7 linked regions of the Homo sapiens genome follow. The protein of the gene in region 3 purifies or fractionates together with the protein of the main gene of each other region. This does not show direct contact. Each region holds a gene or a part of one and is shown on either strand. Other genes may lie near its edges. The genes, in order: RSBN1, TUBA8, MACROH2A2, ZNF770, BBX, PRP4K and DDX51.

Region 1 (3,500 bases), on a different chromosome or scaffold from region 3:
TTCTATATAAATACCTGACTAAAAAGGAAAAACAAAAAACTACTCATTTTGAAAGCCAAACATTTGTGAATCATTGTATGTTTTTAACACTGCCTTACTTTACCCACCATCTCTCTATATTATGGTGTTTTAAGAGCGCTGTCTAGGTTTAAATCCCTGTTCTATAACTTTCTAGTATACTTTCTAGAAGTATACTTTCTAGAACTTTTTTTTCCCTAAGCCTTTACTTTTTTTTTTTTAGAGCAGTTTCAGGTTCCTAGAACTATAACCACACCTGGCTCCCACAAATGCATAGTCTGTCTCCCTGATTATCATCACCCCCAGCCAGAGTGGAATACTTGTTACAACTGATAAGTCTACATTGATGCATCATTATTCGCCTGCCCGCAGTCCATGGTTTACATTCAGGTTCACTCTTGTTGTACATTCTGAGGGTTTGGATAAATGTATGACATGTATCCACCATTAATTAAGTTGCATAAAGAGTAGTTTCACTGTCCTATAAAATGCTCTGTGCTCTGCCTATTCATGCAACCCTCTCTAAAACCCCTAGCAACCACTGATCTTTTAACTTTCTTGATAGTTTTGCCTTTTCCAGAGTGTCATATAATTGGAATCATAAAATGTGCAGCCTTTTCAGGATGGCTTCTTCCACTTGGTAATATGCATTTAAGGTTCCTCCATGTCTTTTTATGGCTTGATAGCTCATTTCTTTTTAGCACTGAATAATATTCTACTGTCTGGATGTACCACAGTTTATCCATTTACCTACTGAAGGACATTTTGATTGCTTCCAAGTTTTGGTAACTATGAATAAACCTATTATGAACACCTATCTACAGGTTTTTGTGTGGACACAAATTTTCAGCTCCTCGGGGTAAATATCAAAGAGTATGACTGCTGGATCGTATAGTATGTTTAGTTTTGTTAAGAAACTGCCAAACTGTCTTCCAAAGTGGCTGTATCATTTTGTATTCCCAACAATAATGAATGAGATAGCATATCTTTTTGCAAGTTAATTCTTTGCACTGCTTCTCATTGGTAAAACCGGAGGAAAGAACAGTATCTCATTATAAAATTAGTGTGCAGAGTAAATGAAAAACGCATGTGAAGTACTTATAATAGTCCTAGAACATAATAAATACTCAATACATCATAACTACTATTATTGCCAAAAACAGTTGAATTCTAGAGGCAGTAGAGTGTACTATTTAAGATAAGAACAGGTGCTGTACTGTTAGATAGACCTAAGTCAATGTCCCAGCTCTATTGTTTACTAAGGTCTCTGGGTAAGCTCATAAATCTCTTTAAATCTAAATTTTCTCATCTTAAAATGTTATAATAGGCCAGGTACAGTGCCTCATGCCTGTAATCCCAGCACTTTGGGAGACTGAGGCAGGAAGACTGCTAGAGTCCAGGAATTCAAGACCAGCCTGAGCAACACAGCAGGACCCCATTTTTACAAAAAAAAAAAAAAAAAAAAAGTTAGCTGGGCTTGGCGGTGCATGCCTGTAGTCCTAGCTGCAGGAGTGAGCTAGGCTTAGCTACAGGCTGAGGTGGGAGGATCGCTTGAGCCCAGGAGTTCGAGGTTACAGTGAGCTATAATCACTTCACTACACTCCAGCCTGGGCAACCCCGTCTCAGAAAAAAAAAAAAGTTATTAATTCTAGAGTCTATCTCACAGAGTTATTTTAAGAATTAAATGAGACAATGACTATAAGGCCCTCATCACAATATGTGACACACAATAAGTCTCTTATCATCTTGATTATCAAGAGAAACACATAAGAAAGATCTCTGAAAGAGGAAAGAAAACGTATTTGCCAAATGTCTAATAGGGACCATATATGTTATTTTATTTTAATCCTCAAACCAATGAAGTACGGAGAAAGAAACAGCCTGAAACAAGATATGTAATTTATATTAGGTCACAAAGCTAGTACACAACAGCCAAGATTCAAACTTCTCACCTATCTGACTCCAAAACAAATTCTTCTAACATACTGCACCCTACACTCTCTTCCTTTCCGCCTCCACTATCAGACATCTCCCTGCAACACTCCCATTAGATGATCAACTAAGATTATCTGGTTACAATTAATGGACCTGAGGTAGCTTGGAATAAAGGGAGTATTACTTCAACAAATATCTTACTTAGTGCCATTTCAAAAGTTTTCGTGCCCTTAAAGGTGTTTTTGCCTCTCTCAGGGTGAGCAGGGAAAAATATTAGTCCCTACAGTTGTTGTTCTGATAAATAAGATTGTTTATTTCAATTCCCTTATAATCCCAATAATTCTCCATTGCTAACATCAAAAAGAAGTGTTTCTGGACTTAAAATCCCTGCTTTTTGACATGAGAGAAAATTTCCATTAAACATCTGGCTCAGGAACACTTACACTCGGTGATAGCAGTTAGGCAACTGGTCAAGAGTAAAAAAAAAAAAAAAAATGAGATAAGAAAGATGACTCACAAGAGCATACATATGAGCAATCCGGTCATGTAATGACATTGGAGAAGACAGCCTATGGGGGCTGTCCTTCCTTTCTTTCCTTTTTAACAACATATTAAAATCATGAATTTACTAAGAATAATTAAAAAGAAGCATTACTTCTTTTCATGGATTTTTAAGGAAGTATGTTTGTCCTATTTTTTTTTTTGAAACGGAGTCTGACTCTGTCGACCAGGCTGGAATGCAAGTGGCGCAATCTCAGCTCAGTGCAACCTCCGCCTTCCAGGTTCAAGTGATTCTCCTGCCTCAGCCTCCCAAGTAGCCCAGCTAATTTTTTGTATTTTTCGTAGAGACAGGGTTTCACCATGTTGACTAGGCTGGTGTCAAACTCCCGACCTCGTGATTTGCCCACCTTGGTCTGGGAATACAGGCATGAGCCACCGCGCCCGGCCTGTCCTATGTTTTTATGAGCAATAAGAGGGAGAGAAAAAAATTAAGATTTCAAAACACATAGGTAACCTCCAGTTTAGTTACACTCAAGCTTATTCCCTATAAGAAATAAAAACAGCATTTAAATATCTCTGTTAAATAATCAACCCCAGTGTGCATAGCAGAAAGAGAGGTCAACTGGGCCATGAGGGAAAAAAATTGAGTTCTGTATTCAGCTCTATCACCAACTAAAAAATTTTAAGCATTTCACTTCATCTCTCTGAAAATCACTTCTTTCTGTTTTAAAGATGAACAAGTTTACCCTAGCATTTACAGATTAAATTTTTGTTTCAACTGTTTATGAACAACTCCAAATGTCTGAGATTGTAATAATTTGTAATTAGTCTCCACATGAATTCAGATTAAATACTGTTGAACTGCTGTGCAGGAAGGAACATGTCTCTTAAGTGAACTCAAGGGTGGCAAACTTCTCTAAAGAGCCGAACAGCAGGCTTTGCAGGTCTTATGGTCTCTGTCTCAATTACTGTATTCTGCTACTGTAGTGCAAAAACTACCATAGACAATATATATGAATGAACAGAGCTATATTCCAATAAAGCTT
Region 2 (3,500 bases), on a different chromosome or scaffold from region 3:
ATTTTTATGAATACGCTGAACAAAGCAAATCAGTTTATTTGTCCCCCAAATATTTTGATTTGTTCAAACAAGAATTCAGTCAGAGTCCCCATGATGCGTGTGGTGGTGCTTGGTGGTGCCTTAGTTCCTTTGACATGGGACAGCCCCTCCCAGCTCTTCATTTCTCATGAGTTGAAAAGGCTGGGCCAGGCCCGATGGCTCACGCCTGTAATCCCAGCACTTTGGGAGGCTGAGGCAGGTGGATCACGAGGTCAGGAGATCGAGACCATCCTGGCTAACATGGTGAAACCCTGTCTGTACTAAAAGAATACAAAAAATTAGCCGGGTGTGGTGGCGAGCGCCCGTAGTCCCAGCTACCTGGGAGGCTGAGGCAGGAGAATGGTGTGAACCCGGCAGGCGGAGCTTGCAGTGAGCCGAGATCGCACCACTGCACTCCAGTCTGGGCGTCAGAGTGAGACTCCGTCTCAAAAAAAAAAAAAAAAAAAGAAAGTAAATAAAAAAAATTAAGAAAAAAAAAGGCTGGACCAGCTGCCCTGTAGGATGTCTCACCTTCTGGATTGATTTTGTTTTCTCTGATATCACTGAACTTAATTAACCCTCTGATCCCTGTGTTTCCTGTGAAGTGGAAACTGAATCTACAGGGCTCAGTGATGAGGGCTGAGTATTTTTGAGAAGAAGTCCTCACTGGTGGTGTGTGTGTCACATTGCGTCCCATCAGGAGGTCCTCGATGTCGGGTTGGCCCACAGTTAGCGATGCTGAGATTGATCGCGGCCTTAGGCTGGCGACCCTGGTAGTTACGTCCCCCCTTGTGACTATAACAGTGGTTCTTTGGCTCTCGGCGAAGATCCAGTTCCCCATCAGTCTTTCACCTAATGGTGTTGGCGTTCTTGTCCAAATCAATCACGTAATTAGAAGATGGAATAGGGCAATATTTGATAATCTATTATTCGGTCCACATTGCTTAGCAGACATTCTTCAATTAAAGAAAAAAGAGCCTTCTCTAACTAACGGGGCTGTCTGGATAGGGACAAATGAGTTTTTCTCTGGGGGTTTTCTTTGAGGACTTGTGGGTTTTCATCTTGCATCCTGCTTCACTCAAATGCTGCCATCAGTACTTGTGAGGCTCAGGTTGTCTCATCTTAGGCAGCAGGAGCCTCTTCAGGTGCTTGGGCAGCCCCTTGGTTAGCCTCCGTGCCTCCAGGCGCTATGCGACATTCCAGGCTCATCTAGCACACTCCCCACCCTGGACCTGGACGCCTCCGTCTCTCCAAGGAGCCCAGTTCCTGTTAGCAGGGATCTTCCTTCTCTCTTGATTGGTGTAGCTACTTTTCACTTTTGAGAGCACCTATGAATCTGTCAGTCATTTCTGAGTCTATTTTATGCCTCCAATTATTCTTATGAGCTAGTTCAATAGGAAAAATAGCTCTTTCTAAGGGGTGTGTGTGTTTGCACGACGGGGGCGGGGGAGAGAGAAAGAGACAGACATTTTGTAAAAGACTGGCATATGTATTAGTGTGAGATTAATGAGGGCATTAAAAGAGGCTAAAGACGTTGTCACCATGCTAGTGGTTTTCAGGTCCCCCAAATCCTTGACTCTTCCTCCCATGATCTTCGATTTTCCCAAAATATCCCTGCGTCCTCCCTGGAAAGCCCCAGAATGTTCCAGAAGTGAGAGCAGGCTGGGGGCCGGGCAGCACTGTAGGCAGGACTAGAGGGTGGTCGGGATGCGGTGGTGGTGAGGGGGCGACAGACCCAGAAGGCTGAGGGTTAGGACCACAGAGGACACTGTCACTTAGAAGGAAAATACATAGGATCAGGCCCCCCTCGGGCCTCTCCAGTGTCCCCTCAGCTTCCACACCTCCCTGGGAAGTCACAGCCACATGCTGAATGTGACGCCGTGGTCTGGGTGGATAACTCGCTGGTTGTGGGTGGTTTCTGGATGCAGATGCTGCTTTCCTTAGGCCTGAATTGAGCCCTCAGATGGAGGCAGAGAATAGACCCCACAATAAAGGAGAGAGGAGCAGGGACCTGAGAGCTCCCTCTACGTGTGCTACTTCCCGGTGCAGAAAAATGCTACCAGGTAGTACCGTAATGAAAATGATAATGGCAAGACAGCATCAACAACTGTGGCTAACTTACACTTTTCAGATGAGGAGAGGCTCAGTAACTCAGCCCAGGCCACACAGCACAGCAAGTAAATTGAGAAGGCAACATGGGAACCTGGGGCCGTGGGCAGCTCTGTGGGTGAATCCCCTCCCTAGCCACCAGGCTCACGGAGATCCAGCGGGTTGCGACCCCCGTCGGGCTGCCCCACGCTCACCCCTGTGCTCATCCTCCCTCAAGGCAAGGACCAGGTGTCGCTCAGCTGTAGCACAGAGACAGGACTAGAGTGGGGGCACAGTTGTAAAATTGAACTAGGGGGCAATGGTCCTGATGCTCTGACCCCGCAAGATGCTACTCAGGGCAGCTGCCCTGCTCTCCATGCCCAGAATTTCTTCCACGTCTCCAGGAGCCCCACACTTTGACGTGGACTCTACTGGCTTCTGTGCCCAGCCGTGCCCTCTGGAGGCTCTGCCCCTGGCTTGGGTTACCCGGAGCTGGAAAATGCCAGGGCAGGTCATGGGTAAAAATAGAAACCCACAGACCTGGCACATGCTTCCTGCTGGGCTCAGGCGGCTGCCCCAGGCACAGTGTCGCCTTGTGTGGGCCACTGCTTCCCCAGGGCAGGGTGTGGGTGGGAGGATGAGTCTATCACGCCTACGTGTGCACGTGCACACACACACACACACACTGTCTCTCTCCCCACCCCCCTTTTTCTTTAATAATTTCAACTTTTATTTTAGATTCAGGGAGTACATATGCAGATTTCTTACATGGGTATATATTGTGATGCCAAGGTTTGGGGTACGATTAATCCTGTCACCCAGGTAATGAGCATAGTACCCAATAGTTAGTTTTCCAATCTTTGCCCGCTTCTTCCCTCCCCGCTCCAGTAGTGCCCAGTGTCTACTCTTGCCATTTTTCTGTCCATGAGTACCCATGTTTAGCTCCCACTTATAAGAACATGTGGTATTTGGTTTTCTATTCCTGCATTAATTTGCTTAGGATAATGACCTCCAGCTGCATCCATGTTGCTGCAAAGGATATGGGTTCATTCTTTTTTGGGGGCTGCGTAGTATTCCATGGTGTATATGAATGACATTTTCTGTATCCAGTCTACCATTGCTGGGCACCTGGTTGATTCCGTGTCTTTGCTGTTGTGAATAGTGCTGTGATGAACGTGTGAGTGCAGGTGTCTTTTTGGTAGGATGATTTTCTTTTGGATATATACCCAGTAACAGGATTGCTGAGTGAAATGGTAGTTCTGAGTTCTTTGAGAAATCTCCAAACTGCTTTCCACAGTGGCTGAACCAATTTACATTCCCATCAGTGCACTCCCCATCTTAAGCTGTTAGTACGAATACCAATCAGGCAATTGTGGCTTCACATCAGCTTTACT
Region 3 (3,500 bases):
TTTTGGTCATTCTGAAGTAGAAAACAGCCTAACAGCCATCAACAGGGAATGGCTAAATAAACTCTGGTGCATCTGTCTTCTGGAATATTAGGCAGCAGTTCAAAAGAATGAAGCAGATCTATACATACTGAGACAGAAAAAGATCACCAAGATGTACTATTAATGAAAAAAGCAAATTGCAGAACAGTACATACTATATGGTACTATTGATATTAAAACGATATAAAATTATACATCTCTATAAGTAAAAATTCATACAAAATGGACAGAAAAAGTATAGAAGATGCCCACTAAGAGAGACAAGAACTAGAGGAATTGTCAAGAAGGGCTTTAGCCATATCATTATTGATACCCATCCATAACCTTGTTACAATATTTGAAGTTCTGTAATTTGTTTTTTTTGTTTGTTTTGTTTTGTTTTGTTGAGATGGAGTATCTCTTGTCCAGGCTGGAGTGCATTGGCACAATCTCAGCTCACTGCAACCTCCATCTCCTAGGCTCAAGTGATCCTCCTGCCTCAGCCTCCCTAGTAGCTGGGACTACAAGCTTGTGCCTCCCAAAGTGCTGGGATTACAGGCGTGTGCCACCATGCCCGGCCAAGTTCTGTAATTTGAATTAATGTATGTCTTGCTTGGATAACTAAATACAAGTAATAATTTTAAAGTGATTGATAATACATAATGATAATACATAATTAATACATAACGATATACACAAAAAATTTACTACAGTAGTTTGTAAAGGGAGAAGAGAGTTTTGGACTTGAAGGGAGGGTGTTGGGCTAGGCTTCATAGAGAACGTGGCAGGATTTGGATGAAGAAGGGTAAGGGAGCGAGGCAGGTGGAAGGAAGCTGGATGCAGATGCTGTGTTCCAGCTAGTCCTCATTCTTCAACATGATTATGAGATTCCCTTGCAAGGCTGAGAGTCCTGGCCTGGCCTACCCTGCCAAGGTTCAGGTTGAAGGATGAACTAAAAGAACCCTCACAATTTTTTTCATTGCCATTTAAGTCTGTGACTACCTTAAATTCTATATATAGAAGAAAGAGAAAAACGAGCCAGTAGAGAAGTATATGAGTTCCAATATAGTATTGGAAGATCATGTTTTTAAAAGGAGTGTAGTGAAATCTTGAAGATAGAATTTTTTTCCCCAATATACACTGGGATGTATATTGGGAATTAGGTTGGAGGGAAAGATAAGTGTTTGGGAGGATAATTCATTTCCCCCAAAAAATCACAAAAGAGACCTTTTGAAACAAAATATTTAAGGCTGGTTTCATTTATTCAAACACTAGTTGAAGGAATATTTATTGAATATCAACTGTGACCTAACACTATGCTAGGTGGCATCTGGGGGTAAAACATGCAATAGCATTTTGGAAGAACAGCCCAGTTGCAGCAGTTGAGGTAAGGGGGCTGGTTCTAGTTTGGTCTCACAGGCCATGGACAAGTCATTCAATGAGCACGTTCCCTTCCAAGCCATTCCTTTCATTGTAGCTACATTTGGGTGGGGGTGGGGAGTGGGAGAATGCTAAATGATTGATCACTCAAGTCCCTTTCAGTCTTAGATTATGATTTTGTGAAATCCTGTGATTTCCAACATTGCAATGACTATGAATTCAGGCAGATGGAATTTGGAGACTACAGGATTAGACCGAGGGGATCTGAAAGTGCCCAGCCTTGGGAAAAACAAAACTATTTGCTGTCATGAGGGTTCTCAGCAGATGATGTGGCTCTCAGGGTTTTCCTAGAGTTAAACTTTCATTATTACCCCTTTACACACATACAACCTCAAGTACCGTACTAATTGTAGCGGTTGGTTTTGAAATAGAGTGGACAAAGAGGCAGAAATATGCCCAAGAAAATGTCAGACTGCATTTCATGAAAATAGTTCTCTATAATGATTTCTTTTGTGGAAATAAATCACAGTAGTTAATGTTTATTAAATGTCTGCTACCTGCCAGGTACTGTTCAAGCACCTTACATGTATTAACCCATTTAATTCTGACAGCAGCCCTATAAGTAGGTACTATTACTACACCCATCACAGGAAAACGAAATGGTGGGGGGATGGTGAAGAACATGCCCCAAAGTCACCACACAAGGGACTCCAGGCCAGGCAGCATGACCCCAAAGCCCTACATCCTTATGCCCACGTGGTAAGAGCAAGGAGCTGGTAGCTTTCCGATGATTCTCAGATGATACTCAGCTTAATGTTTGTGTAGGCAAATTTTTATTTTCAAAACTTATTTGTCTCACTACTTTATCCAACTATGACAAATGAAAGAATATGAGACTGAGCCACAGAACTCTGTACTTTAAGCTGTCTTGTCACAAAGTATTAAATAAGATAAATTTGGTGGTTTCTCTGAAGCCCTTACTGTTCATTTATCCATCTCACCATCCATCATACTTTGCCCGATTTATTTGACTGGCATTGCCAATTTGGACTTGGAATGGAGTAAGTAATTCAAGTCAAAATTCTCATGCTTTGATAGAAATGTGTGTGGAAATATGCATAGACCACCAGTGTACAGACATTTACTCCAACTGATTCTGAGATGTCAGAAGGGTTAGATACACTGACCACATTTATTCACTCAAAGTTACAACACATGATCTGGCCAAAGATTTAGGGGTTGTTTCTGGATATGAAAGGCGGTCCTGATGATAAGAGTTTAGATGCCCAAATTTGGGATATTTCTATGACAACAGGATAAAAGCAGCACAAGATAAAATCAAACCTACCCTGGAACCCAGGCCCCATGCTGGCTGGGCTGGCACTGCCAATTTTATATATATATATATATACACACACACAGAATTTTGTAACTTGTATTTTGCGCTCCTGCCTTCACTGCTCAATAAGACCATTAAAATTAAATAGTGGTGGTGGACCACAAAAAGGCAAACCCCAATAGCTTATACAATATGCAACATAAACTTTTAGGTCAGGTGGTAATTCACTGGGTTGCTCATCCCGAGTGGTAAACTTCCAAATTGAGCTTTCTTGCAGAATTTCAATGAAGTGATCATTGACTTAAGTCCCCCGTCCCCCCACCACCCCGCCAACAACCCTATCACGACTAAACTGAATTTTCACCTCAGCTGTTCCATAGTAAACAATGTAGATTATTGTTTTGGGGTGAAGAAAAGGCAGTCCTAGATATAAAATCAAGCAGATTTTTTCAGGTCCAGTTTTTCTTTTCTGTGGTTATCCTGGGTGAAGAAATAGCAACTTCAAAGGACAGATCCTGTGAATGTGACTTATTTATCCTGGTTGCTCTATCTCTGTGAATGTAAGTGACAGGTGGGGCTCAGAGGGAGTCTGTTTTGAGCATCTTATAGGTTGGAGAGGACCTCAGAGGTGAGCTGGTGCAATGGTTCTCAGGTGGGGCTCCACAGAACCCAGTGCTCCTTGGAGGCCCAAGGCAGGAAAGGTGGCGACCAAGCTGTTGAAGTTCCCAGGCACTTGCCCACTCCAGCCAGGACAGCTCCCCTT
Region 4 (3,500 bases), on a different chromosome or scaffold from region 3:
TTTTAATTTTTTTTTGAAAAAATCTCTGACTCCTTTATTTAAGGGCAGTGCCATAGTAAAGTAATAATGAAAAGAAAATTGGCTTCTCTGATAGAAGATAGAGTATAAGATAGTTATGAAAGTGCTTGCTAAACTTTTTTTTTTTTTTTTTTTTGAGACAGTCTCTCGCTCTGTTGCCCAAGCTGGAGTGCAGTGGTGCAATCTTGGCTCAGTGCAACCTCCGCCTCCCCAGTTCAAGCAATTATCGTGCTGCAGCCTCCCAAGTAGCTGGAATTAACATATGTGCACTACCACGCCTGGCTAATTTTTGTATTTTTAGTCGAGACGGGGTTTTGCCACGTTGTTCAGGCAGGTCTTAAACTCCTGGCCTCATGTGATCTCCCTGCCTTGGCCTCCCAAAGTGCTGGGATTACAGGTGTGAGCCACTGCACTGGGCCAGTTTTTTAAATCTTTATATTAACGCTTAAGACCAAAATGACCCTTTTACTATATTGCCTGATGGGCAAAGCACACTCAAGTTTCAATTACTTAGTCATAGATAGCTATATAAGTAACCAATTTGTCGATCTTATTACCTCTATGCTTGTCTTTTGGGAATTTCACAACAAAGTGAAAAGGAGAATTTTTTTTTTTTTTTTGAGATGGATTCTCACCCAGGCTGGATTGCAATGGCACGATCTCGGCTCACTGTAACCTTTGCCTCCTGGGTTCAAGTGATTCTCCTGCCTCAGCCTCCTGAGTAGCTGGGATTACAGGTGTGCACTACCACACCCGGCTAATTTTTGTATTATTACTAGAGGCGGGGTTTCACCATGTTGGCCAGGCTGGTCTCAAAATTCCTGACCTCAGGTGATCCACCAGCCTCAGCCTCCCAAAGTGCGGGATTACAGGCGTGAGCCACGGCGCCAGGTGAGAAATTTTTAAAACCTGTAAATTTAGTCAGTGGGTTTATCTCTTATTGAGAAACGCTTAAAAATGTTACTAAGACGATAAGGATAACATTTTAAAATTTGATTAGTGTTGAGCTAAATAGTTCCTTAGATTTATGTATTGCTTCACTGTTTTTTAGCACATTCATATACATTATCTCCATTGATTTTTGACAACAGCTTGTGGTGGTAGACAATCCAGGAGACCTTTTCCCCATTTTACAGATGAGAACTCTGTATTTCCTTCTTCCTACCACCAAGATCGTATAGTGGCAAATCCAGGACTAGAACCCAGGTCTTCTGTGAATTTTCTCCTAGTCCACACTGTCCTTGTTGGTCTAAAGAAGTAATTGAGAATAACTCATGTTAAATTTGTGGCTAAGAAATCCACCTATGATAAGTGAAATGTTCTATTCTAAGAGCATATTTACAATGTGCTATAATTGAATGCAAGTATATCTTATTTTTAGTATTATGTTTTGATTTGTTACCTTTCTAGCCCATTTTTTAAAATGATGGCAACTAAATACTGGCAAATCTACCTAATAATGAAATAGGAAAATTGGAATTAAAATATCTATTTCATGTTAAGAAATTCAGCCTAGTCCTCATTTAATGTAGCATCTCAATTAGAAAAATAGCTTAAAATTGTATTGATTTTTAGATATTTCTTTTAAAGACTCATATCTCTGTATGTATAAAATTAGTATTATTATTCTAAAGTATTACTTAAAATGATTATTAACTTGTAAACACTAAGTCCAGATTCTCCTTTGCCTTTAATATCTTCAGCCAAAGAACAACTTAAGTTACTTTTCATATGAATAAATAATTTTAAAATTAATACTTTTTTTCCTTTAATTTTTAGACATCTGTGGAATTTAAGAACAGTATGGAGCTCATCAGAGTATATCATTGAAGAATATGATGGCTGAAAACAATTTAAAAATGCTAAAGATTCAACAGTGTGTGGTAGCCAACAAACTACCTAGAAACAGGCCATATGTTTGCAATATTTGTTTTAAGCACTTTGAAACACCATCAAAATTAGCTAGGCACTATCTCATTCATACTGGTCAAAAGCCATTTGAATGTGATGTGTGTCATAAAACCTTTAGACAACTAGTTCATCTGGAGAGGCATCAACTAACTCATAGTCTGCCTTTTAAATGTAGTATTTGTCAGCGTCACTTTAAAAATCTGAAGACATTTGTGAAGCACCAACAACTTCACAATGAAACCTATCAGAATAATGTTAAACAGGTCAGAAGATTGCTGGAGGCCAAGCAAGAAAAGTCAATGTATGGAGTGTATAATACTTTTACCACAGAGGAAAGATGGGCATTACACCCGTGCTCTAAGTCTGATCCCATGTATAGCATGAAAAGAAGAAAGAATATTCATGCATGTACAATCTGTGGCAAGATGTTTCCATCACAGTCAAAACTTGATAGGCATGTACTTATTCATACTGGTCAGAGGCCTTTTAAATGTGTCTTGTGTACTAAATCTTTTCGACAGTCAACTCACTTAAAAATCCACCAACTTACACATTCAGAAGAAAGACCTTTTCAATGTTGTTTTTGTCAAAAAGGATTTAAGATTCAAAGCAAACTTCTGAAGCATAAACAAATCCATACTAGGAATAAGGCTTTTCGGGCTCTTTTATTAAAGAAGAGGCGTACAGAATCTCGCCCCCTGCCTAATAAGTTAAATGCAAATCAGGGTGGTTTTGAAAATGGTGAGATTGGTGAATCTGAGGAGAATAATCCACTTGATGTCCACTCAATTTATATTGTCCCTTTTCAATGTCCAAAGTGTGAAAAGTGTTTTGAATCAGAGCAGATTCTCAATGAACACAGCTGTTTTGCTGCTAGAAGTGGCAAAATTCCAAGCAGGTTCAAAAGAAGCTACAACTATAAAACCATTGTTAAAAAAATCTTGGCCAAGCTTAAGCGTGCTAGGAGTAAAAAATTAGATAACTTTCAATCTGAGAAAAAAGTATTTAAAAAGAGTTTCTTGAGAAATTGTGATCTTATTTCTGGTGAGCAGAGCTCTGAACAAACCCAGAGAACATTTGTGGGTTCTCTTGGCAAACATGGAACATATAAAACAATTGGCAATAGAAAGAAGAAAACATTGACTTTGCCATTTTCTTGGCAAAATATGGGAAAAAATTTGAAAGGCATCCTTACGACAGAAAACATATTAAGCATTGATAATTCAGTGAATAAGAAAGACTTGTCAATCTGTGGTTCATCAGGTGAGGAATTCTTTAATAACTGTGAGGTACTTCAGTGTGGTTTTTCAGTTCCAAGGGAAAACATACGTACTAGACATAAGATATGTCCTTGTGACAAATGTGAGAAGGTATTTCCTTCTATATCCAAACTAAAAAGACACTATTTAATTCATACTGGACAGAGGCCCTTTGGCTGTAATATTTGTGGGAAATCTTTTAGACAGTCAGCTCACTTAAAAAGACATGAACAGACTCATAATGAAAAGAGTCCTTATGCATCTCTTTGCCAAGTAGAATTTGGAAACTTCAACAATCTTTCTAATCATTCA
Region 5 (3,500 bases), on a different chromosome or scaffold from region 3:
CAATATCAATCTTATTAAATTAATAAGCTTATTATTAATAATCAAGCTTATTAAATTACCATATGATATATTGGTAGTTTTGTAAAATTAGTTTCTTTAAAAAAATGTACTGACTACTGTTTGATTAAAACATACACAAACAAAAAGCATTAATACTAGGAAAACATTCTGGAGAGTGGACTAGAATGAAGACAAAATATTCAATGAGCAAAGTAAAGCCAGTTTTCAATGAATGCAATGGCACAGAGGCAACATGCTTTAACTTAAATCATCAATGACTTCAGAAATGCCACCCGTAAAGTTGGGCAATCTCTGGGCTGGTGCTGACTGTCTCTAGGGTCCCACAGCAATGGCAACATGCCTGCTGGATCCTAGGCTGGCTTCTGGCTTTCATTAGGTGAGACTTATTAAACTAACATGCAACCTAGACAGATGGAAGAGGCTGTAGGACAACTGCTGTGCCTGGTAGATGGAAAATGGAAGAAGGTGTATTGGGAAGAGGAGAGCAATTTTAGTACCAGCTTATAAGCAGTAAATGTGTTAGGCTGCTAGCTAAGGGGTGTCCTAAAAATGTTTTTAACTACAACTGTTTTGGAGGAATATACAAGAGTTGAGAAGCAGAGATAAGAGGGTCAGATGACCAACTGAATGGTCAACAGGAAATGGCAATTATGGAAGCACCCCTTTACTGGAGGGGGGATATACTCCAAGTCCCCCAGTAGATGCCTGAAACCGCTGATGGTACTGAACCTTACATATGCTACGTTTGTTCCTATACATGCATATTGTACAGTGAAATATGATAGACAAAGGTATGATTTATGCAGTGGGTGGAATGAAGTGGGATGGCACGAGATTTCATCATGCTACTCATTGTGGTGCATAATTTAAAACTTATGAGTTGTTTATTTCTGCAATTTTCTATTTAGTATTTTCAGACCCAAAACTGCAGAAAGCAAAAATATGGCTAAGGGGGAACTACTGTACTAAGTTCTGTCAAAGCAATAAAGGGTAACGGGTGGAGGTGATATTTTCCCCTTAATAACATCACCATTTCTCATTTAGTTAAAAAATGTTTATTCTGATGGAAAATCAGATACAATTGGATACTAATTAAATACTATCAGAAAGCTGTCTATAAGTTGTGAATTTTTCAAATACTCTGAATACCCAAAAGAAAACTGAAAATGTGAGACGTAACTCATAAGGTCTCTTGAGACTTTTCTTAAAAAGAGAACAATAATAATCATTTATGTTTTTCTTAGAGAAGTCTATAAAATTAGATCTGTCAATACTGAGAGAATTTTTCTTGGCTACAGTTAACAGGTAGCACATTTTCTGAGATAAAAAAAGGTTTAAAATGCTCATCTACAAATCTCAGAGCAGACTGACAGGAAATGGCATTTCTCCCTGCTTAAGTATTATACTGGCGTGTTCTAAACAAGGCAAACCCAAATACTCGAATCCTGACAGGCCAATATTTAAAGGGAGAAAGGAGGAAAAGGCACTGAAGTTTACTGTTAATTTACAGCTATAAAAAAGCATCTCCCAGTTATACACATGTGCCTTCCTCAGAAATGATTAAAAAAACAAACACATACAATCCACATACCAATCTCTTTTCAGGAACAGATTTTCAAGATTGTTTCACTTATCTTGTTCCTCAAAGAAAATTGATGAAAATCTCTCTTACAGCTTCAGCAGTTTCTAATAGAAGCATCAGAGAAATGCTTCTGTTGGGGAGCCTCAATGCTTGCTTTATTCCCCTAGGACCTCACACTGCCTACATAACACCTGCTCCTCTCTCAGTGAGCAGACCCACAAGGCAGTGGCAGTAATTCCAGACTACAGAGAGCACTGGTCTAGATGCTTGCAGGTCATTTTAAAATGATATTCTGCATTTACACTATGATTTGACACTGAAATACGAGGATTTTCATGTCATTACTTAAGCAAAATGTAAGCAAAACTAATTTGAAGTACTTTGGATTTTTAAAAATATTAGAAATGAAATACATAAAATTATAAGCAAAATTAATTTGAAGTACTTTGGATTTTTAAAAATATTAGAAATGAAATACATAAAATTATAAATATATCATTTCAATAAAAATAATCTTAAAGAGCCAGCACTATGGGAAATAATTTCTACCTCGCTACTTTGTGATGACCTAGAGCCTTAGAATTAGCCAGACTTAAAGCACTGTGACATCTAAGGAAAAATATATTATTCCACAAAGAGATATGCAAATATTATGAATAAATCAAATACAATACACCCAATGCATACAATTTGCATAGCTTTAAACACACTTTTGAAAAAATATGGTGAATATAACAATGTACTTATTTCTATTCAAAGTATTCTTTTCAAATTGAGCCGACAAGAAACCTCAAGAATTTTCAAAATAGTCTAACTGAATATGCAGATACTTTCCTCACCAGTATAAAGTATTGGATCTCCTAACTAACAAAATACTTTATATTAAGATGGTTATTAACAGTCTTTGGCATAACGTTAAATATAAAATAATTCTTAAGTGATTTTATCTTGATGCATGCCATTGCTTAATACTGCATTTCAATATATAATTAATATATTGAATGTTCTCTACAGCAGAATATTTGACCTGATATTTTTATCTTAGAGCAACAGAAGACAGCTGGAACAAAATAAAGTTGGCGATAGAAGCATAATTTCATTTACCTTACATTTTTCAGCTGTCATTTTATAAACAATAAATACATATAGTATGTAAAATGGGCAAAATGTAAACATGCTAATACTATCCATTCTAAGCTTCGGATGGAAAAATGCATCCTGGTGAAGGGATGTTGATTCAAACTCAGGTCCAAGTCTAAAGTCTATATATTTTCACTATGATCAAAATGTGAATGTTACTGTCATTCACATGACCATGTTAACAGCAGGAATGATGTGATGCACTTGATTTGTGTTCACTAGGGTGCCTACTAAGATTGTAGGAAGTCCTGAGCGAGTAGTCAAAGAACAAGCATGCGTAGTTAGTGATCTGTTTACCTTGAAAATCCCACCCACACTTGAGGCTTGTGGAGTACAGGTGACTGTGCTCACAGGCACTTACCCAAGGAGACAGTCTTCTTTTGGCTTTGTCTTCTTGAACTTCTTGCTCCCACTGGTCCCACTCTGACTAAATGTCCAGCTTTCTTCATTCCAACACCCTTCATGATCAGAGGAGTTTCCTTTTCCTGAGCTTCGTTTTCCTAAGAAAATTCAAGAGAAAGGATGTGTTTGGTATACAGGTGGGCGAGGGGAGATGATGTTAGTTGCTTCACGAGCAACCTCTTGACTGCTTGCATATCATTTGCATGAAGCTAACTGTAGCTATTTCAGAGTTCTCAGAGTGATTCATGCTGGACCATCTTTAATAATGGAACATGCAGAAAAGTGACTTAGAGCTTCTGGGATTAATTGTCATGTAATTCAACAGGTATCACATGACTCAAAGAGACAGACTAAC
Region 6 (3,500 bases), on a different chromosome or scaffold from region 3:
TCCTCCCGGAGTACAGTGGTGCAGTCTTGGCTCGCTGCAACCTCCACCTCCCGGGTTCAACAGAGAGTCTCTCTTAAAATGAAATACTTCAAGGAAGGAATTTTTATCTTCAACAGTGTGGCTTTGTTGTGTTTTCAGATGTGAATCTATTCTAAAATCGAAATGGGAGTTTTACCTTGCATATCTTTCTTCTTACCTATTTAGAAAATTTGAATTTATTCAGAAACTGTGTTATATACATACAATTTGATATGCTCTCCTTTCAATATAAAATGATTTATCAAATGTGGGGGTGGTTCTTACATATTTTTATTTTGCGCTTGATTTTACTTTATGCTTGCAAATGTTTTTGCCTTTTTATATTTCCATTTTGCATTTTAACTCCTATTTTGTTTTCTTTTTTTAATTTTCTCCTAAAAGCATGAACTTACGAGAGGTGTTAAAAAAATATGGTAAAGATGTTGGTCTTCATATTAAAGCTGTAAGATCCTATAGTCAGCAGTTGTTCCTGGCATTGAAACTCCTTAAAAGATGCAATATCCTACATGCAGATATCAAGCCAGACAATATCCTGGTAAGTCAAACAGCCAAGCTGCGCTGTACATCTTGAACATACATTTCACTTCTTACTAGCAGTAATATTATTACTATGAGAAACGACATCTTAGAAGCATAGTTCAGTATATTAATAACCTATTTCAAATGACTAATACTTTTTTATCTTTCTTGGAAATCGGACAGTGAAATTTTATTGACAAGTATGAAGAAAAAGGAAATGTACAATTGTCCCTTTTTTTCTCTTTTGACTGATAGATTTAAAGTGTGCACCAATCCTGGAATGCTTTACTGTAGTAATGAGTTTCTTCTGTTATCTTTAGAAAAATGCTGCACATGTTGCTGTTTTGAAATAAGGAGTGTCCGTACTCTTCTGTTTGCTAATTTTATAGCTCCCTAAGCTGTGGCTCCTGGGGGCTCAAACACAATAAAGCTCAGTTGTGGTTAGGTATTATATTTAAAGGCATCGCTTTTGAAGTTTATTTTATTTTATTTTTAAACTTTCAAGTTCAGGGGTACATGTGCAGGCTTGTTACATAGGTAAACTTGTGTCATGGAGGGTTTGTACCCACTTTTCCTGATCCTCTCCCATCTCTCACCCTCCAGCCTCTGACGGACCCCAGTGTGTATTGTTCCCCTGTGTGTCCATGTGTTCTCACCTTTTGAAACCTTAATTCTCTTCGACTAGTGACTTCTGGTGGTAACAGCAGATTTCACAATGTATATGTTTTTAAAATTTTGAAATACATACATATTATCATAGTGATGTGATTAATGCACACACACACTCCTCCCCTCCCTGGCCCCATTACTTTACCCTGTTTTGTGGCCTTCAGTTTGGGTCGTGTTCGCAACTTGGAGAATTCCAGCTTATATGCTGGTAACATTCTGCATTTCATTTTTTTAAAATGGGTTCTCTTTATCAGTTCTCCTACAGTTGATGCCTAGGAGAGATCCTGAAGACTAAAAGCTAAGCGTGTAAGGTGTTCTTTATTGGGAACTCTTGGAGCTATAACAAAATAAATACTTTTGATTTTTTCTTTTGTTTTTTTTGTTTTGTTTTGTTTTGTTTTGAGGTAAGGTCTTGTTCTGTCACCCAGGCTAGAGTGCAGTGGTGCCATAATGGCTCACTGTAACCTCCAACTCCTAAGCCCAAGCAGTTCTCCTGCCTCCGCCTCCCCAGTAGCTGGGACTACCCACAGGCACATGCCACTGTGACTGCCTAATTAAAAAAAATTTTTTTTAGAGATGAGGTTTGGCTGGTCTCAAACTCCTGGGCTCAAGCAATCCTCCTGCTGCAGCCTCCCAAAGTGCTGGGATTATAGGTGTGAGCTACCATGCTTGGCCAAGATAAATTCTTTAAAAAATGGTGATCTCATTAAAGTTTAAGGAGTTTTTTTTTAATCAATAACTAAGCTATTTAATTCATATTTCTTTTTCTTTTTTGTTAATATCTTAAAATATTTCCTTTATTTCCTTCCAGACAACCACATTAGTAATGAGGTGTATTCCATTTTTATGTTTGGTCTGAATTATTATTGTATTGTATATCTAATGTAACTTGGAGTTAGGGGAGCTGAGTAATTTCATTGAAATGGTAGGTACATTAAAAATGAAGTATAAATTTGTGTGGCCAATTTCATAGTTGATTTTTACCTCAGTTTTTTTTATGAGACACAGCCTTGCCCTGTTACCAGGCTGGAGTGCAATGGCGTGATCTCGGCTCACTGCAACCTCCAACTCCCTGGTTCAAGCATTTCTCCTGCCTCAGCCTCCCGAGTAACTGGGATTACAGGCAGGGGCCACCACGCCCAGCTAATTTTTGTATTTTAGTAGAGACGGGGTTTCACCATGTTGGCCAGGATGGTCTTAATCTCCTAACCTCGTGATCTGCCCGCCTCGTCCTCCCAAAGTGCTGGGATTATAAGCGTGAGCCAATTTTTTGTTTTTTAATTGTGAAATACATGGTTCATGTCAAAGAATATGCAAAACATGTACAATTTAAAAGGTCATTTACAGTGAGCGTCTTTGTGACCATTGTGGAGGTTAAAGAATAACACATTTGCCAGTGTCACAGAAGAAACTCTTGTTTTTAAAACCTAATGCTAAACTAGTATAGGTTTTCACATACATTTAAGAAATGTTTTCCCGTCTTCCTGGGGAAGGAAAAAATAGACCTTAATGACGGAGCTGATTTTTGTTAATGAAAATCCAAAGCCTTTAGCTCGTAATTTCAGGTATCAGTGTGGTTTAAGTACCACATTCCTCATGACAGGAGCAGAAGTTGTGTAGCAAACTGAAGTGCATATGAGTATGGATACCCTGCTATTCTTTAAGGCATTTTAGCCAGCCCAAGAGTTCCACTGATGGATTCTAATTTTAAAATGGTTCTTAAGTTTTCTGTGGGTATTGAAACTGCTTAAGTAGCTGAATTCAGCTTACACTTTAAAAAGTTTTAAAATAACTTTTCTATTTTAAGATGCTTTTCTGATTCCCAAGATGAAAAGAATAGTAATCAATGTGGGAGTTAAAAATAATCATTTCTGTTCCTATTAATAGCTTAACTCTGGATATCATTTATAATAGTCCAGTCTCCCCATAGAGACTGCCTAAGGCTATAGTGTTATGCTGCTTTGGGGTGGGAGCAGTAGGCCAAGTTCAAGTCCCAACTCGGAATTTGTGTGTGTCTCTTTTGAAGGGGGGAAGGGACTCTGGAATATGAATTATCTTCACTTGTTAATCCTGAACATGCCTCTGACTCATGAGTGGCAGCAGTCATGGGAGCAACTCCAGCCTTTCTCAGCAGATGTCACTATTACTGTGTATGTTGAAGTATTTACAAAGGAAAAAAGAAACAAATGACTAATATAGAGTTCATGTTTATCAGTTTTGCCAGATATATTTAACATTTTCTTGACTAATACCTTCTTTATATTTGAGGGATT
Region 7 (2,613 bases), on a different chromosome or scaffold from region 3:
TGGAGGTTGCAGTGAGCTGAGATTGCGCCACTGCACTCCAGCCTGGGCAACAAGAGCAAAACTCCGTCTCAAAAAAAAAAATTGCCGGGCGCGGTGGCAAATGCCTGTAATCCCAGCACTTTGGGAGGCCGAGGCAGGTGGATCACAAGGTCAGGAGATAGAGACCATCATTGCTAACATGGTGAAACCCCGTCTCTACTAAAAATACAAAAAAAAAAAAAAAACAACTAGCCGGGCGTGGTGGCGGGCACCTATAGTCCCAGCTACTCGGGAGGCTGAGGCAGGAGAATGGCGTGAACCCGGGAGGCGGAGCTTGCAGTGAGCGGAGACTGCGCCACTGCACTCCAGCCTGGGCAACAGAGTGAGACTCCGTCAAAAAAAAAGCTCTCCTCCCCAGATTTGTGAACCTTGTGACTGTTCAGTGGACACCTCACATATTGCTGGTGGGAAGGTCACGTGGAGACAGCTGGGCAAAGCCTTGGGGCGTTAAACACAGAGTCACTCATGACCCAGCACTTCCTCTCCTATGCACCTTGTACACCCCAGATCAATGAAACCTACATCCACACAGAAACGTACACAAATCTCTCAGCAGCACTGTTCACAGTAGCCAAAAACTAGAAACCACATGTCCGTCAGCTGATGAATGGAGAATAAAACGTGGGAAATCCACACCAGGAGAGAAAAAGGAGTGAGGCACCAGCATAGGCACCCCGTGGATGAACCCGGAACCTGACGCTAACTGAAGGAAGGCTCCGGCTATAGGGAGTGTCCCAGGCACAGCCAGAGATTGAAGGGTGCCGGGGCCGGGAGTTGGTGGGGGTTGGGGCTGGGGACACAGTGGCCAGTGTGTGGGTTTGTTTTGGGGATGATGAAAATGTTCTTAGGTTGTGTGTGGTGATGGCTGCTCACCTCTATAAACCTTTTACTAAAAACCATGGACTGGGTGGATACAGTGTGTGAATTCTCTCAGTCCAGTGCTTTGTTTGAAAAAGGTGGATGATGCCAACATCACTAACCGCCAGGGAGACGCAGGCCACGGCCACACCCGGCTCACTGGAGTTGTGAGGATGGAAACACCAGCCCACCCCACTCAGTTCAGACCTCAGCTTAGATGCAAAGAATGTCTGGGATGGGGACTGGCAGCTGATTAGAGATGCAACCACTGAACCTGTGGACTGTGTTCAAACAAATGCCAGCAGAACACAAAAGGCGACTGTTACAGGAGGCAGAAAGAAATGATTTAGGTAGACGGGGTAAAGCCAGTCCCCAGCAGAAAATTTGCCTTTTAACAAAAAGCAGCTCAAAAATAGCTCCCTTTCTAACCTCGGGGTTCAAAATCACTTCTCACGACAAGCAGCCAGAAAGAGCAGACTGTGAATCACAGATGAGACAGCTCGGGCACAGGAGTGCGGGGGGTGTCTCCTGGGTGATCACCAAACTTCACACTTCCACAATGGGCCCCAGTAAAACAGTGGACCCTAATAAGCACATTCCCGTCCCCTTAGGTGCACTAAGGGAAGCTAAAAGCAGACTGAGGGGTGCCTGTAACCCCAAGAAGATGTCTGGGAGCAGACCCAGAGACCCTCGCAGAAAAGTGTCACAGAGCAGCACAGACTGAGTCTGACAGAAACTCTCTATACAAATAGCACACCTTGTCCCAGCTAAAACCCTGGGCCCTGGGAGGACAAGACATCCCTCCTCTAACCCCTCGTCACTAGCCCATTTGTAAAAACCTTGACAGGCCGGGCACGGTGGCTCACACCTGTAATCCCAGCACTTTGGGAGGCTGAGGCAGGCGCATCACCTGAGGTCAGGAGATCGAGACCATCCTGGCCAACATGGTGAAACCCCATCTCTACTAAAAATACAAAACTTAGCTGAGCGTGGTGGCGTGTGCCTGGAGTCCCAACTACTCAAGAGGCTGAGGCAGGAGAATCACTTGCCCGGGAGGTGGAGGTTGCAGTGGGCCAAGATCAGCCCACTGCACTGCAGCCTGGCGACAGAAAAAAAAGAAACCTTGACATCTTTACTACAACTTAGCAACCCGCTCAGGCCCCCTCTGCAACGGAGAGCTCTTCTTCCTTTTTGCTTATTAAACTTCTGCTCCAAACTCACTGTGTGTGTGTGTGTCTGTCTGCGACCTCGATCTCCTTGGCCATGAGACCAAGAACCTTGGTATTTACCCCAGACCACAAGGCTGCTTCACGATGATTGCCATTTATCGGGGATTGATAGTGGCTCAGTGCTGCTGGGTTCGCAGACATAAGATGTGGGCCTGGCCACACACTCGGGAGGTGGGAGGAGCGGGCACCGTGGGCACACTCGGGGAGGTGGGAGGAGCGGGCACCGTGGGCACACTCGGGAGGTGGGAGGAGCGGGCACCGTGGGCACACTCGGGAGGTGGGAGGTAGCGGGCACCGTGGGCACACTCGGGGAGGTGGGAGGAGCGGGCACCGTGGGCACACTCGGGAGGTGGGAGGAGCGGGCACCGGGGCACACTCGGGAGGTGGGAGGAGCGGGCACCGTGGGCACACTCGGGGAGGTGGGAGGAGCGGGCACCGTGGGCACACTCGGGGAGGTGGGAGGAGCGGGCACCGTGGGCACACTCGG

The links.
Region 1: the proteins of MACROH2A2 (region 3) and RSBN1 purify together in Homo sapiens (affinity purification with mass spectrometry; 2 studies listed by BioGRID and IntAct, with this or other methods). This does not show direct contact.
Region 2: the proteins of MACROH2A2 (region 3) and TUBA8 purify together in Homo sapiens (affinity purification with mass spectrometry; 2 studies listed by BioGRID and IntAct, with this or other methods). This does not show direct contact.
Region 4: the proteins of MACROH2A2 (region 3) and ZNF770 purify together in Homo sapiens (affinity purification with mass spectrometry; 2 studies listed by BioGRID and IntAct, with this or other methods). This does not show direct contact.
Region 5: the proteins of MACROH2A2 (region 3) and BBX purify together in Homo sapiens (affinity purification with mass spectrometry; 2 studies listed by BioGRID and IntAct, with this or other methods). This does not show direct contact.
Region 6: the proteins of MACROH2A2 (region 3) and PRP4K purify together in Homo sapiens (affinity purification with mass spectrometry; 2 studies listed by BioGRID and IntAct, with this or other methods). This does not show direct contact.
Region 7: the proteins of MACROH2A2 (region 3) and DDX51 purify together in Homo sapiens (affinity purification with mass spectrometry; 2 studies listed by BioGRID and IntAct, with this or other methods). This does not show direct contact.

Annotation. Positions count from the first base shown.
Region 1 is NC_000001.11:113,802,477-113,805,976, forward strand, and holds part of RSBN1 (lysine-specific demethylase 9), read right to left. Parts: intron 1-3,500. UniProt on the Homo sapiens protein: Histone demethylase that specifically demethylates dimethylated 'Lys-20' of histone H4 (H4K20me2), thereby modulating chromosome architecture.
Region 2 is NC_000022.11:18,117,309-18,120,808, forward strand, and holds part of TUBA8 (tubulin alpha-8 chain), read left to right. Parts: intron 1-3,500.
Region 3 is NC_000010.11:70,055,846-70,059,345, forward strand, and holds part of MACROH2A2 (core histone macro-H2A.2), read left to right. Parts: intron 1-3,500. UniProt on the Homo sapiens protein: Variant histone H2A which replaces conventional H2A in a subset of nucleosomes where it represses transcription. Nucleosomes wrap and compact DNA into chromatin, limiting DNA accessibility to the cellular machineries which require DNA as a template.
Region 4 is NC_000015.10:34,981,788-34,985,287, reverse strand, and holds part of ZNF770 (zinc finger protein 770), read left to right. Parts: intron 1-1,797; 5' UTR 1,798-1,853; coding exon 1,854-3,500. UniProt on the Homo sapiens protein: May be involved in transcriptional regulation.
Region 5 is NC_000003.12:107,774,462-107,777,961, reverse strand, and holds part of BBX (HMG box transcription factor BBX), read right to left. Parts: intron 3,244-3,500; coding exon 3,105-3,243; intron 1-3,104. UniProt on the Homo sapiens protein: Transcription factor that is necessary for cell cycle progression from G1 to S phase.
Region 6 is NC_000006.12:4,052,300-4,055,799, forward strand, and holds part of PRP4K (serine/threonine-protein kinase PRP4 homolog), read left to right. Parts: intron 1-420; coding exon 421-574; intron 575-3,253; coding exon of another isoform or gene 3,254-3,277; exon of another isoform or gene 3,278-3,500. UniProt on the Homo sapiens protein: Serine/threonine kinase involved in spliceosomal assembly as well as mitosis and signaling regulation. Connects chromatin mediated regulation of transcription and pre-mRNA splicing.
Region 7 is NC_000012.12:132,136,094-132,138,706, reverse strand, and holds the end of DDX51 (ATP-dependent RNA helicase DDX51), read left to right. Parts: 3' UTR 1-2,113; downstream 2,114-2,613. UniProt on the Homo sapiens protein: ATP-binding RNA helicase involved in the biogenesis of 60S ribosomal subunits.